2 separate regions of the Homo sapiens genome follow, and region 2 is linked to region 1. Evidence: fine-mapped expression QTL. Tissue or cell type: whole blood. Region 1 holds a variant in brackets; the other region holds the start of a gene. All regions are shown on one strand. Distances are between the middles of the regions.

Region 1 (8,103 bases):
AAATGGGAGATGAACTCACTGATAACAGGAGTATTAAATTGCCAGATCCTGCAACTGTCCTCGTACAAAAGTCCCTGATTATTTCTGAACCTCAGTCCTGCAGAACAAACTATCGTTTCTGGGCATAATGGATATCATGCTAGAGTCTTCTGTGAGACAAAGCCATGCAGCCTAGGTGTATTTTGAAGTAACAAAAAACCAGTTATATTGAACCTCTGAATTTAGTGCGAATGAAGTTGTTTGCTAAACCTAATATTTACAGCCACATGACTAATCATTTATGGAAAAGGCCAATCCACGGAGAGGAGTGAGTAGGCAAGCATTTCCAGAGAACTTGAGGAAACTAGATTTTAACACTCCATATTTAAACTTCACCAATGGTAGCGATAAAAAAATGCCCTATTGTATAGAGTACCCTTGATATAACAAACTCCATCTTAGAATAAGACTTCATTTTATGTTTCAGAGGGCACTTTGCCAACAAGGATAAGATGTTTTGTTTAATAAATAAAAAAGATAAAGATTGCATCCAATCAGATAAAGACACAAACAAGGACACTCGTCCAAGATCAGTTCTCACCAGAGGCCTCTGTGACTTTAAAATGTCAGGCCTTCAGCAGCTCGAAATGGGGCTGTCTTAACTGATACTGTCTTGCAGTCACTCATGATAAGAACTTGGCATCTGCTTCTGCCACCTCAAACACTTTTCCTTGCAAGACTGACCTGCTCCCACTGGACTGGTTCCTTAACCTTTCTCCTATCTCTTTCTCCTCTTCATGTTCAATGCTACTTTGTTTATTGTGGAATGTTTAATCTGTAATATATGTATATTGATTAAGCATACTATTATGTATGGTTTCCCATATTGACTGACTTGTGGAGTGGCTCAAGCCTGTGTGCCTGCGGCTCTGACTACCAAGAGAACAGGAGGTACTAAAGAGAATTGCTTCCTTGGGAACTCCATGTAGCCTCTGGCTTTTGTGACTGAATTAGCATCAATAAAAGCCTGACATTCTGGAAAGACACAAGCATGTGTGGACCTGGTTATTTTTAACCTGGCATCGCTCATGACACCTATGTTCAAAAAATTCTTTTTTTTTTTTTTTCTTTTTAAAACTGCTATTGGGGCATTATTCAATGTCTTCAAACAAAGAATCCTTGACAAATTTCCTTCAGAACCAAGCACTGGGCAAAAATTTCTTCCTTCTGACGAACTGTTTCCTAAAATTGCACACAAAAAAGAATTCTGCAACCAGTTTTCTTTTTATAGGTTGGTGGACAGCTCAGAAGTAAGTTTTATGTTTAATTGCTCTTATTCCTCTCATTCAGAATTTATTGCTATTGTTTCTTCTTTATCCTTTATTTTTTGGTTCATGTTGGTTCTTAGAACAGTTTTTACAACCTCATTTTTTTTTTCTGAAGTGGGTGGTATAAAAAAGTTGCAATTAATTCAGGAATTAAAAATGTGGCTCCTAAGACATTTCTTTCTTTCTTTCTTTCTCTCTCCTTCTTTCTTTCTTTCCCTTTCTTTTTTTCTCTTTCTTTCTCTTTTTTCCTTTATTTCTTTCTTTTTCTTTCTTTTCTTTTCTTCTCTTTCTTCTTTTTTTTGATAGAGTCTCACTCTTGTTACCCAAGCTGGAATGCAGTGGTATGATCTTGGCTCACCGTAACCTCCACCTCCTGGGTTCAAGTGATTCTCCTGCTTCAGCCTCCTGAGTAGCTGGGATTACAGGCATGCACACCCACCTAATTTTTGTATTTTTAGTAGAGACAGGGTTTCTCCATGTTGGCCAGGCTGGTCTCAAGCTCCTGACCTTAGGTGATTGACATGTCTTGGCCTCCCAAATTGCTGGGATTACAGGCATGAGCCACCACGCTGGGCCTTATTTTCTAATGGCACTGCATTCCCCTGTCAGAATATTTGCTCCTCCCTCTCCATTGTTTATTTACTTGAAGTGAAAAAGGACAAAAAAGCAAAAGACAGCAAATTGATGGCAGAAGGTTTGCCTGGAAAATTCCGAGGGACAAAGAAAGAACTGGCAAATAATGCCCCCCCGAAACAGATAGGTCCTGGGGAGAAATATGATTTCCACGTTTGCAGACTCCTTCTCTTGTACAAACGGGTTGGGAGCTGGTTTTGGTTCAGTTCTTTCCTCAATGCTCAGGAAACAATTGAAATTACAAATGCGCCCCAGGTGCTGTCTTCACCAACGATGCATGGAAAGATGAATGTGTTTACATGTAGTCAGGGGCTGGAAGGTGGAACTCACAAAAGGATTGAAATTAATATGCAGAAGAGGACCTGGGAGAGTTCCCTATCCTTCCTGCTAAGTGCATCCCCAGGTTTCTAAAACATCCATTCAGATCTTTGTATTTGTTTTAATTTGTCCAGAGTTATTCACAAGGTTTTAGAAATCAATTAGTTCTGTAGTTGGAAGATTACCCATTAGGTAGAAATACAAGAGTCTTGGGGCTATTTCTCTTCAAATAGGTAATTTTTGACTTTCGTGCCTGTGTCTAGTTTTGAGGAGGAAAGATCTGATGCCTCCTAATTTTCCTTGTGTGTTTTTAAAGGCATAGTAACAAACATTGACTCCAGTAAGCTGTAGGTGCCAATGGGTGCGTTAAATGAGGTTTTAGAAAAGGAGACTTGAAGGAGGCCCGAACAGCAGAGGGAGTACTGGCCTGGGAGTTGAAACACCTGAATTCTATGCTTGCCCTGCCAGTATCTAGTACGGTAGGAACAGTGGGCCGTTTGCCACCTGGCGTCCCATGCATTCTCTCCCTCCTCCCTGCCCCAGGAGGCTGATCCTCCAGACTGCATCACCCAAGGTCCCTTGCTGTCTGGCATCCTATTAGGTTGGAGATGACAGATGGGAAACAGAGACTCCCATCTCCGGCTGTAGAGATCTCAGCGCGAATACCTCCTGTATGTTCCCCTGTCCTGCTGTTCTGGCCCTTGCTTTTGGCCTTGTCACCCTTTGTTCTCATAACCCTGATCACACCTAGCTAAGTGGTCCCCTTAAGTTCTTTTCATCTGAGCCATCTGGGGTGGACTCTGTTTTCAGGCACGTCTCTGAATTTTACAAATGGCAACCAGCTTTAGCAAACTGGAAATGGGTTTGAATTCCAAACCACTGGGATCACAGCGGCTGTGTCTGGATTCTTTCCAGAAGGCTGCCAGGTGGGAAGAGAAACAGGGAAGATGAATTGGTACCC[A/C]CTTGCCTGGTCCTTTGCAGACTGCTGCTCTATCTCCTGAAAAGCGTTAAGACCAAAGACAGCTCCGTTTTACCCACCAAACATATTAATACACTCAGGCACTTAAGGATAAAGAGCTTTGCTCATGACTCAACCAAAAAAAATTTTAATGGAATTTTCTTCTTTTTTTTTTTTCTTTAAATAACAATTTGACAAAAGGGTGAAGAAATCCTAAACAAGGTATTGAGGCCAGTGTCCAGGCTGCATTCAGTTCACAGAACTGTCCTCAGGACGTTGCATGGAACTGGAAATGTGTATAATTACAGAAGAAAACAGGGAGGACTTAGTGCAGAGAGGAGACGAGTGTGGACGGGCAACAGCATCCTTAGTCTTTCATATTTATATATGGTATATGTATTTTCTATATATATATTTATATATTTTACATCCAGGTATCCCAGTCATCTGTACCATTTCCCAGGGAGACATGGGTGCTTCCAAGGCGAGACAGGAAAGGGTTAGGCAGGGAAGGGGCAGCGACGGTGCAGGCTGGGGCTTGGCTCACAGAAGCTGCAGGAGCTTCAGCGACTGTAAGAGGGCCCCGGGCTCCGCAGACGCCAGGTACTGGCAGCAAAGCCAGTCCTCCAGCTCCACGCCCCGCCTGCGATCCACCGCCTTCTCCGCAAACTTCATCATCATCAGGGCCCGCTTCATGTCGATCCAGTTGTGCAGCGTGCCGCACAGCGCCTCCTCCGAGGTGCCCGGCTGCTGCACCAGCTCGCGCCGAGGCCCCCACAGCAGGCACTGCAGCACGCGCTTGGCCTCGCCGATGCGGATACGCTTGATGGGGTCGGCCTCCAGTAGCAGATGTGCCAGCTGCTGCAGGCCGGGTGAGTAGAGGGACAGCGCGGGCAGCGGCGGCAGGTCCTCCTGCCGGTAGTCTCTCTCCCGCAGCTGGGCGCGCACCTCGAACGGGTTGGGTTGGTGCAGCAGCTCGTAGATGAGGATGCCTGTCTGGAACTCATCGAACTTGCGGTACTGGGAAGCAGACACGATCTCGGGGGCCAGCCGGGCCTGGCTCTTCTTCTGCTGCAGGTTTGGGGTGCCGCCCGGCTTCTGCTTGGCCTTCAAAAAGTTGCTGATGATGAGCCGGGGCAGCTGCTTCTCCCGGGGCCCTTCCGGGGAGGCGGGGCCGGCTGCGGGGCTGAGAGTGCCACCAGCAGGCGGGGCGGCAGAGGAGCAGGGAGGCGCGGCGGCGGCGGGGGCGGGAGCCGGGGCGGGGGCGGGGGCGGGCCCGGGGCCGGCCTGGAGGGTGCAGTGCACCAGCAGCAGGTTCTCCAGGCACAGGTCCCGGTGGATGATCCCGTGCTCCTTCAGGTGCTCCAGCCCGTTGCAGAGTTGCAGAAGCAGGAAGCACACGCGCCGCTCGTACGCCTCGGGCTCCGCCTGGTGGCTGGCCGCCGAGTCCCGCACGAAGTCGGAGGCGGTCTGATGTGGCACCTCTCGGGTGATGACCACCACGCAGTCCTGCTCCTGGGCAGGGGGGTGTGTGGGCAGGGCAGGCACAGGGTCCTTGGGCGCGTCGGGGGAGCTGAGCATGCTGGACGGCACCGAGGCGACGAAGTGGCCGCAGTCCTGCTGGATGTTAAAGTGCACGGGCACGGACGGGCTGCAGTAGGAGACTGTTTTGGGCTCAGGGGCTTTGCAGATCTGTGGAGAGAAGAAGAAGTGAAATCAAGAGTGGGGCCCATGGTTCCGCCCAGCAAAGAGTGTGGAAACATTTGAGTATCTACGTGCAATAAGCCTATCCACATAGGCTTAAGGGTAAGAGCAATCCATACACATGCTAGAAGAAAACATGGGACAGAATCTTTGAGGCCTTGGGTTGGGCAAAGATTTCTTAAATATCACACCAATAGCATAGTTCACAAAAGAAAAGAAAAATCACAAACTTAACCTCAAAGTTCTAAACTTTTGTGCTTCAAAAGACACCATTAAGAAAGTGGAAAGACAAGTAATAGACTGGGAGAAAATATCTGCCAAAATGTATGTAATAAAGGACTTGTTTCTGGAATTTGTATTAAAAAACACTCTTTTACAACTCAGTAAGACAAACAGCCCAATTAAAAAAGGATACAGAATCATGGCATGGAGGAAAAAACAAACAAACAAACAAAAAAACGTGGGCAAGAGATATGAATAGGTAATTCACCAAAAAAATTTGTAAATGGCCACAAGCATGTGAAAAGATGCTGGACATCATTATTCATCAGGCAAGTGCAAATCAAAACCACAGTGAGATATCAGTTCACGCCCACTAGAATGGGTTCTAATAAAAGACAATTCCAAGTGTCTATGAGGATGAGCAGAAATGGGAAACCTCAGACATTGCTGATGGGAATGTAAAATGGGGCAGACCCCTTGGAGCAGTTTGTTAGTTTCTTAAAAAGTTAAACATAAAATGACCATATGACCCAGTGAGTGGGGTCCCTGCCGAGCAACACACAGTGTGGTCGGGAGGTATTGGTAGGAAGACATCCCTCTGTGCACAGTATGGACAAATTCTCAAGAAGGCAAATAGTGTTTATAAGAAAGCAGCCTCACTTCCCACATACTTTTCCTTCAAGGTGAGTCACAGCAGCTGAAAGAAACCAGAAAGCTCTCCAAGGAAGAAGGAACCAGAAGGAACCCTCAGAGGAACCCCAGGGCACCATCTGAGATGAAGGTAGGAAAAACAAGATGGAAGGTCTCAGGCTTCTCTGTGGGAAGCATAGCTGGGGATCCACACAACTCTGTCTTTCTCGCCTCCTCCATTTCTTCTTGTACAAATGGCAGTGCCAGCCACCTGGGGATCTCTAGCAATCCTAGTCCTCATCTGGCTGCCACTCAACTAGAGAGTCTTGAACCAGCCGTAATGGCCCTCTGTCAGGCCTCAATCTCCCTGTCATTACCCTGAAAGGGACTGAAGTCCCCTCTCTCAAATGAATATTATGCAACCTCACCCAGGCTTTGTAGAAAGACAAAGATCAATGTGTAATGTAGAAAGACAAAGATCAGATGTGAGAAGAAAGGCATCTCACATCTACCTATAAAATATTATCCTGCAAACACTCCTAAAATAACCCTGCCTTCAGGCTGCAGTGTTGGAATGATGATGAAGCAGTGTTTTTGAAGTACCTCAATGCTTACAGGCGATACTTTTAGAAGTTCTACTGCAAGCACCTTTTCACGGAGATTTATTTATATTGCAGCTATGCAAAGCTTCTCAGCATGAAACCTGGCATACAAGAGCTTGGCCTCCAAGAGATGTTTTTAAAGCTAATTGTCGGGAATGGTGGGTAACACATTAATTTAGTAATCTGTCTATTATAAAAGCAGAATGGTAATAAAAAGGAAAGACATTTACCCCAGACATTGCTTCCTATTACACTAACAAAAATGATTTTGAAATACATGCCTAAAAGGCATTGTTCAGGCTCTTTCTTATTCCGGACTACCCAACTCTACTCGGTTTTTATTTTTTACTTTTTGAGACAGGCTGGAGTGCAGTGGTGCAATCACAGCTCACTGCGGTTTTGACCTCCCAGGTTTAAGCGATCCTCCCACCTCAGCCTCCCGAGTAGCTGGGACTAGAGGTGTGCACCACCATGTCCAACTAATTTTTGGAATTTTTGTACAGACAAGGTTTTGCCATGTTGCCCAGGCTGGTCTTGAACTCCTGGGCTCAAGTGATCCTCCCACCTCGGCCTCCCAAAGTGCTGGGATTACTCGCGTGAACCACGGTGCCTGGCCTGCACTTGGTTTTTAAATGGCAGGCTTCTGGAGCACTATTAAACTAAAGGAAATTTGCAGCAATGGTGGTGGGGGAAGTCCTCAAAGAAAGCATCTTGCATATACGCTGTGTTGTCAGTGGAGATGTGGGAGGACATCACTGTTATTGTCTCACCCCTAACAGATTACAGACTGGGCTCTTGCATGTGCAAGTACTGTGCCAACTGTGAGGGTTCCATGCAGCATCTCATTCAATCTCATTAAATCCAAGGAGGAAGATGCTATTACAGAGGAGGAAACTGGGGCTTCCAGAAGTTAAATTATTTGCTCAGGACTATACAACCGAGAAGTGTTGCAGAGGTCAAAAGCATGGGCTCTGGAGTGAAAAAAGGCCTGGGTTTAAGTATTAGCTCTGTAACCTTTGTCAAGTTACAGGGGATTTTCATTATTTGCAGGAGTTATGTTCTGTGAAGAAGCCATAAACACTGAATTAGTGAATAGTGAACCGTTTTTCCTAGGGGAAATACAAGGTAAGTTTCCTGGGAACCTCTGGTCACAATATTTTCATTAACCCACCAGTATTCAACCTTGTTTCATGTATGCTTCTGTTTAGAGATACCTTGTTTAACATACCTTGTTGAGTCATTAAGAGGAACTCACGGGCAACAGCACTAGAGCTCATCCCTGAAAAATGCTTATCTAACACATATGTTTTTACCCATGAGGCACATCCCAGCCTTGTGGTGGTTAGGAACACTAGACAGCACTTCAGCCCTATGCTTCGGCCATTTTATTTTATATATATAGTTTTGTTTTGTTTTGTTTTGTTTTGTTTTTGAGATGGAGTCTCTCTGTCGCCCAGGCTGGAGTGCAGTGGCACGATCTCGGCTCACTGCAATGTCTGCCTCCCGGGTTCAAGCGATTCTTCTGCCTCAGCCTCCTGAGTAGCTGGGATTACAGGTGCCTGCCACCACACTCGACTAAATTTTTGTATTTTTAGTAGAGACAGGGTTTCACCATGTTGCCCAGGCTGGTCTCGAACTCCTGACCTCAGGTGATCCAGCTTGGGCCATTTTAAACAGCAAAATCACCAACATGTAAACCCAAAAATAAAATTCTAAGGCCCTCCAACCA
Region 2 (8,103 bases), 69 kb after region 1:
CCTCCCTGCAGTGGTGATTTGCGCATTGCTCCTGGCTCTTCTTAGCCTATTTAAAATAAACTGACTTCCCATAAGGAGAATGTTCAAGAGCAAAATCTTCCTTAAGAACATAAGGGTGAATAGGTTCTCATTAAATAGGGACCATTTTGCCTTAGGGTTTTCTCTCCACTTTCCTCCCATAAGGATCTGCCTTAAGTTTGATAATCTCTAAACTGTCAACAGGACTAACCAGGTGGAATGAGCCGGGTACCCCAAAAATCATTCCAGAGTGTTTGTGGGAAGTGCTCTCTTTTATCTCCACACTCATAGACAGGGGTGTTCATTCAACAAGTGCTGAAGCTACGTGTGCCTCTTTTCCCTCCAAAGTGAAAAATGGGTTGAGGCCAGGCGCGGTGGCTCACGCCTGTAATCCCAGCACTTTGGGAGGCCGAGGCAGGACGATCGCTTGAGCCCAGGAGTTTGAGACCAGCCTGGGTAACACAGAGACACTCTGTCTTTACAAAGATAATAATTATTTAAAAAAACTATCCAGGTGTAGCCATGCATGCCTGTGGTCCCAGCTACTTGGGAGGCTGAGGTAGGAGGACTGCCTGAGCCCAGGAGGTCAAGGCTGCAGTGAGCCATGATCACACCACTGCACTCCAGCCTGGGTGACTAGAGTGAGACCCTGTCTAAAAAAACAAAAAAAAAGTTAAGAATAAAGCCCACTGCATCTTTAAGCTAAATAAATCCTCTGAAATAAAAGAAAAGTATCTTTTAGCAGTTATTGTTAGGGTCTCACAGGTCCTTTTCTTTAAGAAGACTGTTAGCTAGGTTCTTCTCCTCCTCCAAATACACCCAAGTAGCAGGTTCCTTCTTTGCCAAGTTCTCCAGAAGAGGTCACTGGGCTTCAACAAGCGGAGGAAATAGCCAGGTTTTGTCTTTCTCTTATAATCTCAGGCCACAGAGAACTGTAGCCTTGCTGCTAAGTTTTGGGAGGGGGAAAAAGCAGAGGAAGTATTCCAGCCTTCAGGAATAGGCAGTAGGTCCCTTCCTGGGACGCTGATGGGTGAAGACTGTCTACACCTTCTAGGCCACAGAAAGGACACTGTCCAGCCCACCTCCACTGCAGGCAGATGCTCCCATGCCTGCTCCGCGGGATGGAGGAAGACAGTTTGGAAACCAGCTCTGTGTGGGCTCTGCAAGTTCCCACAGCTCCTCCTGACACTGGGCTATCTGAGGAGGTGGGTGCCCAACCACTTCCTCAGGGTCTATCACAGATTCACAAAGCAGCAGTTCTGCTTGGCGACTTATTGCCTCCTCAACAGGCAAGTAAGAACACAAACTTGTTTTTGCGGAAGGGGTGACATTGGTATCAGAGGCCCTACTTTCTAAGATTCCCCAACCTTTGCACAGCCCTGTGCAAAGGGAGTGTGGAAGGATCTGGATTGCTAGCGTGGGGGAAGTTTCCTTGAGAATGTCTCATCAGTTTACGAGCACTCTTTGCTCCCATTCTCAGCTCAGAAATCCTTGGATGTTTAGAGAGGCAACTTTCATCACACGACTGCCAGGGACGGATGGACGCAAAGATTTTTAAAGGGAAGTCATTGAATAAGAAAAGAACAAATGAAGCCCTGGGCTTCCCACTGTCATTGACTCACTGCATCCTGTTAAAACTGGTTTCTCAGTCGCAGCAAACAGAATTTACCACCGCATGCAGCCAAAAAAAAAAAAAAAAAAAAAAAACCTCTTTTCCCGTTGCACTTCTGTGCCTGGAATTATCTCCTATTTGTTTTAAGTAAAAGATGGTGAGAAACACAAGTGGCACCCACAAAGCCTTGCCTCGCCTTGCCTGGTGCAGCAGTGCCAGCTCTCCACAGCATGGGGAAGGCACTTCGCAGCCCACATTCCTTACTTCTGAGGGGAGGCAGCCCCCAGAATTATGCAAATCCTCCCCATTTCAGTAGGAGGCTGCAGTGTCAGATTAGAAAAAAGAGCTCAGCATTCTTTCTGATCCAAGTCATGAAAAAAATGTCTTTGCCTCTGCAAACTTCTGCACTAGATTTGTGGCTACAGTTTGCAAGACTGAAGCTGTCAGATACACTCCCACCCCATTTCAAAAAAGAATCTGAAGAATCAAGGTGGCCAGATCTTTAAGATTAAATATTTTGGCCCAAAATACCCCCTCAGACTTACATCAGAAGTTGCTTATGCCTTATTCTGAAGTGACAGAATTGCAGAAAACATTCACCTAAAATTTTTTTCTGTATGTTACAGTTAAATTAATGCAACGCCAGTAAAAGGAAAGAAATATGTGTGGAAAGTGTCTGAACTTCAGCACACTCCACTGGCCAGGGCTGACCAGGCAGAAAGGAGAAAGTGACAACTTTACCACCCACTAGCCCCCTGCCTCCCTACTCACGCAGAGGGTAAATTACGATATTCACCCAACTTTTCCTTTTCTTTTTTCTTCCTCCAGTGCTGGAGGAAAGAAAATCTCAGAGGGAGGAATGTGGTTTTGCACCCACTACAGTCGAAACCAACCAGACCTCAGGAGAGAAAAATAACTGCGGAATTCCCTAGGGCTTTCTGTCAAATTTTCTTCTCAGAAAGGGAAGGGGAGAGGAGTTGTTAAGAATAGTTCAGGCCAGTGATCAGGAAAGCCTTCTGAGCCTGACTCCGCACTGAATGCATCGCCAAAACTCCTCGCCCCTAGACCATTGGGCTTTGCTATCGGCTCTGCAAAACCATGTGCAGGGAGAGCTTACCTGAGAGAAACGCACACACCGTGAGCTGGCGCTCTCCGCTGCGAATGCCCGGCCGCCTCCATGCCCAGCAGAGGATTCTATGTTCTAAGTGTGTGTGTCCCCGGATACCAGCAAAGGTTAATAACGTGCTCACAGCATGCGTTTCAGAGGGCTCAGCCAGGGCTCGGGGAAAAGGGCATCATCTCGTTGCCTCTGGAGCCCCGCTGCTGCATACCCTGCACCCCCAAACCATCCCCCCGGGTCCTGGTCCCAGCAGCCAGGCGGCCTTCCGTCTCTCCCCCTTGACAATACTCTAGCGGTGGAAAGCAGTCCTCAAAGCGCTTCAGCCTCCGGCCGCAGACAGAGCAGCAAGACCAGAGAAACCATCCTAACAGTCGGTCCTCCCTCCTGGAACTCGTAGGAAAGTTTCCCCGTTTTAAAGAGCGCGATTCTCGAATGAATCAAAAACACCCTCCAGCTCCTCGGTCCTCCCGGCCGGGCGCCTCCCTGCACCTCGGGCACCACCCGGGGCTCACGCGGCCCCGGCACTGCCCACTTCCCGAGCGGTCGCCTGTCACCCCGGGGGTAGCCCGCTCGGCGATCGCAGCGCCCCTCCAAAGCTCCCCTCTGCGACCACGCTCGCCAGACAAAAAGAGGCCGAATTTGGAGAGCGCGTCGCGGGCTCACCTCTGGGCTGCGCTCCCCCGGCCCCTCCGTCGGTCTCCGAGCCGCCAGCCGCCCGGCCGGAGCATTGTTCGCAGAAGGTCTGCGCGCGGTGCGTGCCCGGCCGCGGGCGGGTGGCTTCTGCCTGGGCCCGGCGGCCGGGTGGCAGCTGTGAGCGCGGCTCCGCCCCCTCCGCCTCCGGTGACGCCGCCCGCCCCAGCTCACGCCGCACCTCCGCAGTCCCTGCCGCCGCCCGGCCCCGCCTGGCCCGCGCGCCCCGCCGCCCGGCTTGCGCCTGCCGCTCCCACCCGGCGGTCTCCTACCCCCAGGGCCCCGACTCCTCCAAAGTCTCCAGGCCCCGGGACTCCCTCTCTTGCCCACCCTCCCGCCCCGGACCGGCAGGCTCCGCCCCCAGCCCCAGACTTGGCGCGGGCTGACCCCCGAGCCCAGCACCCGTTTGCACCCCCTCCTCGGTGGGGACCCTGCACAGCTCTGGAGGGGCGAGCTCTGGCGTTGCAATCCTCCTTTTGCCATCATGCGTGTATAGGTGCCCGGCATCACTTCATCCAGCCGGCCCTGCGGGACCCTGGGAAGAGAGGGAGAAGGAAGGGGAAACGAGGAAGTGTGGGGTCGGGAGTGGAATACAGGTCAGGGTCCGAGGCGGGCTCTGAAAGCCACGTGAGCACAGCGAGCCTCAGCTCTCCCTACCTCTGGGAAGAGGGTGGCGCCGGAGGGAGCAGGGCTGGAAGTCCCGGTGGCGGATTCCAGGTTCCGCTCAGTCCCTGGACTGCAGGATTCTGGCAAATTGCTTAACCTCTTTGAACTTTAGTTTTCTGGATGTAGAATGCAAGCGTTGCACTGCAGGGACCTGGCCTTCTACCATGCTGGGACATCCAAGTCTTCCGCAGGCCAGTAATACACCTGTGTTTACACCGTTTCCAGTGAGTCATTCACTGAGATAGAACGAGTTCGAGATAGTCCTCGGGCTAAAAAAATCTTTTCACTGGGAGTATAATAGCTTAAGACCCAGTCAGTCCTGTAGCTTGACCTGGGTGTTTACTCGGGGAGCCAGGGCTATGGTCACCTCCCAGGGCCATGCCGGGTGGGAAGAATTCAGTGAAATGGAATAGGAAGAGGACCCCCCTCCCCCACAAAACAATACCTGCGGCTTCTCTCGCCCTCTATCCCCTCCCCAGGAAGGCAGTTTATTTTGACTCCAGTGAAGGTCCTCTGCCAGTCAGCCTGCGAGCCCCCACCCACTGAGAGGAGGAAGATGGGCCCCCACCCCCACCCCCAGATCCCTGGCTCTCCTCTTTGCTGCTGTGGGTGTGGACAGAGAGGGAAGATGTGTATTTGAGGTTTGGCTTCTGTGTGAGGAAAGGGAAAAAAGGATCCAGGGAATTCTTCCTCATGTTCCAGTGACACCCATGCCTCCTAAGAGGACAGAATCTGGGGGAAGCTGTAGAGGGATGGGAGTGCAATGGACATTCCTTAAGGACCTACCCAGCGCTAAGCAATCCTATGAGGAGAGCATCATTATCCCCATTCTACAGATAAGAAAACTGAGGCTCGGGGGCCTCACAATTTGCTGGGGTTCCTCAGCTGAAAAGTGGTAGTACTAAGATTGGAACCAAAGGCTGTCTGGCTTCGCTGGTAGGCAAGTCTACTCTGCCACTCTGCCCTTGCCAAGTGCAGGTAGTCCAGCCCTATTTTTCTCTCTCCCCTAAGTGGAGAGAAATCATTTGAACAAATACTGGCCGTGCGCGGTGGCTCACACCTGTAATCCCAGCATTTTGGGAGGCCGAGGCTGGCAGATCACCTGAGGCCAGGAGTTCAAGAACAGCCTGGGCAATGTGGTATAACCTCATCTCTACTAAAAATACAAAAATTAGTCGAGTGTGGTGGTGGGCGCCTGTAATCCCGGCTACTCAGGAGGCTGAGGCAGGAGACTCACATGAGCCAGGGAGGTGGAGGTTGCAGTGAGCTGAGATCGCACCACTACACTCCAGCTTGGGTATCAGAGCAAGACCCTGTCTCAAAAAAAAAAAAAAAAAAAAAAGGAAGGGAAACTTTGGTTACACTTCATGAGCATCCAACAGAGCTGAAAGATCCAGACCCTACCAAGACTCAAGAGGGGAAGATGTTGATTAAACAGGTAGGTACAAAGTGGTCTGCAATGGAGAAATACAAAAGTGACTTCAGAAAGTGTGCAATTCATTTACACTGGGAGAGGGCAAACTAAGATGTTTGAGAAGTTCCTGGTTCTCAGGATTCAGGCTAAATGTTTCACTTCTTTCCTCTGTAAGAGAGACATTGACCTCACAGAATAAAGGCTGTGCTGAACACATAAAAGAAGCACTTACTTTTGCACTTTATTTTCTTCTCTTTACCTAACTTATTCTTTTTTTTTTTTTTCCTGGGATGGAGTTTCATCTTTCAATCAGGCTGGAGTGAAGTGGCAAGATCTTGTCTCACTGCAGCCTCCACTCCCCGGGTTCAAGCCATTCTCCTGCCTCAGCCTCCTGAGTAGCTGGGATTGCAGGCGGCCACCACCATGCCCTGCTAATTTTTCTATTTTTAGTAGAGACAGCATTTCACCATGTTGGGCCAGGCTGGTCTTGAACTCCTGACCTCAAGTTATCTGCCTGCCTCGGCCTCCCAAAGTGCTAGGATTACAGGTGTGAGCCACCGCGCCCGGCCCCTAATTTATTCTTAATACATGAACAGGCTAAAGAGCATAATTATAAGAGAAAGCCATAATGTGGCAAGACTTGTAGTTCTGTGGCATGGGGCAGTACTTGAAGGGTAAATTCAGTGTGTCTACAAAATAAAGTGTGTTCTTAAGTGGTTTGCTGTGCTCACACAAAGTAAATGCATTATACTGTAGTTGCTGACATATAATGTGCATCTTTTTAAAAGCCAGCAACATGGCCATAGAGACGACTTCATCTTGCCTAATGAAAAGAATCAAGAAACACTTCAAAGGAGTCACTGGGATGCACATAAAATACCCACACTCTTAGGCAGTGCTCTACCAGTGACTGTTAAGTATATGATATCCTCAGTCAAGCTACGGTAAGCTCATTCATTTTCATAAAGAATTCTTGCTTGAACTTCCAAACTGTACCCTGCAATGCAGTGTAATTTGTGTAGACACAGCATTCTGCTTCTAGCTACTTATCAGTCCATTTTTATGACACTTTTAACTGCAGGGCGTGGGCTCCCTGATACAGACCAGACCTTGAAGAACAGCAATTCCTCGTCAGAGTTTTAGTCCAGCGGCACCATTCCGTACAAGAGCAGTTATATTTTAGGAAACTGGGACAAGAGGTCAAGGCTGGGAGTGCTTCGGGGTGAGTAAAGTAAGGTAGTTTGGAATTAGGCAAAATGGCAGGATTAGGAAGGATGTGCCATTAAATTATACTGCAAAAATACAAGCTGGGGTATTGGAGAGGGGTCAGATAGTATGAAGATTGAGCCAAAGAAATCCCACACATATTATCTCCTCAGCCAGAGCATACATCTCAAATAATAGAGACATGCATCTCACCTAAAAGCGAGAACGATATTCAGTTTTCTCAACGAATATGTATTGAGTGACTTCTACTTATAAGCACTGCATGAGGTCCTACTGGGAAAAGAAAGACGAGTAAGAGCAAAAAAAAAAAAAAATAAGCTCTATGAGAGGAAGATAAGTCGGGGCAGTGGGGGTTCAAGGGAGAAACAGACAGAAGAAACACAGAAAGTGGCTCTATAGAGGAGGGGAGCTTTAGAAGATGAGAACGATTTCAATCTGTGGAGGATGGGGACTTTCCAGACTGAGACAATGTTATCTGCAAATGAATGGACGTGGGAGAGGCGGAAGACTTTTCAGAGGTTTTGCATTCTAGACTGGCTGGATCATGGTTTTTGGAGACAGGCCTGGAAATGGAGTGTGGCACTAGAAGAGAAGAACTTCGTTTCCAGGTGAGCCATCAAGAAAGTGTTGACATTTCCGAGCAGCAGAATGACATCACTAAGGTGGTTTTTCATTAGCTTTCTCTGGATCTTGTATCCCAGATGGATTAGGAAGTGGGAGAAGAGATTGGAGACAAGGAGTCTGGCTTAGCGTTCCTATCCCTGGTCCAGATGGCAGTTGATGTGTTTTGATAAGGAACATGGCAAGGGAAACAGAAAGAATGGATGGTGTGTGTGGTTTTGAGAGACATGAAGAGGGAGAAATGGGGATTGGTTACTTCGTGGATTCACTGTGAGCAATAATCTATTAACGAATAAAGCCTTACATTATGGAGCACTTACTCAGCATCACGCCCTGTGTGATCAGTGATGTACCTGGCTTTTCTCATGTAAGCCTCGCAGAAACACAGGAGTAGGTGCTATTACTGACAGAGAGGAAGGAATCAAAGGTGACCAGTAGAGTTTTAGCCCCTAGAGACCGGTAGAATGATGGTATCATTATTACAAACGGGAAAGTCACAGAATTCAGTCTGTGGTCTGTTGGGTTGGAAGTGTGTAGCCACCGTTTGGTGAATGAAGTCATCCTGCCAGAAGTGGTGTTTGGAGCCCCCAGAACAAATGAAGGGGTTGCAGGAGTATTGTGAAGAAGGCGCAAAAGTGATAGGAAGAGGCCAAGAATTGGGGGACCCAGGAATACAGAAGAGGCCATAAGAAAAACAAGAAGCATGACCCCTTCCCTTCCAGACCTTTTAAAATG

What was found. PIP is the estimated chance that this variant, and not a neighbour inherited with it, causes the effect.
Region 2: it holds the start of PRAG1, and the variant in region 1 is fine-mapped to the expression of PRAG1 in whole blood (INTERVAL, PIP 0.99).

The regions. Positions count from the first base shown.
Region 1 is chr8:8,314,395-8,322,497 of GRCh38, forward strand. PRAG1 (PEAK1 related, kinase-activating pseudokinase 1) reads right to left here. Exons shown (of 6, transcript NM_001080826.3): 6 at 3,342-4,908. The coding sequence ends at 3,760. It overlaps LOC124901879 (a long non-coding RNA gene), which reads left to right and starts at 5,863. Exons shown (of 3, transcript XR_007060799.1): 1 at 5,863-5,923; 2 at 6,450-6,532; 3 at 7,425-7,499. The variant A/C (reference allele first, on the strand shown) is at 3,220.
Region 2 is chr8:8,382,908-8,391,010 of GRCh38, forward strand. PRAG1 (PEAK1 related, kinase-activating pseudokinase 1) reads right to left here and starts at 3,532. Exons shown (of 6, transcript NM_001080826.3): 1 at 3,414-3,532. LOC105379222 (a long non-coding RNA gene) reads left to right here and starts at 6,657. Exons shown (of 3, transcript XR_002956679.2): 1 at 6,657-6,742; 2 at 7,280-7,355. RefSeq lists a silencer at 3,235-3,914.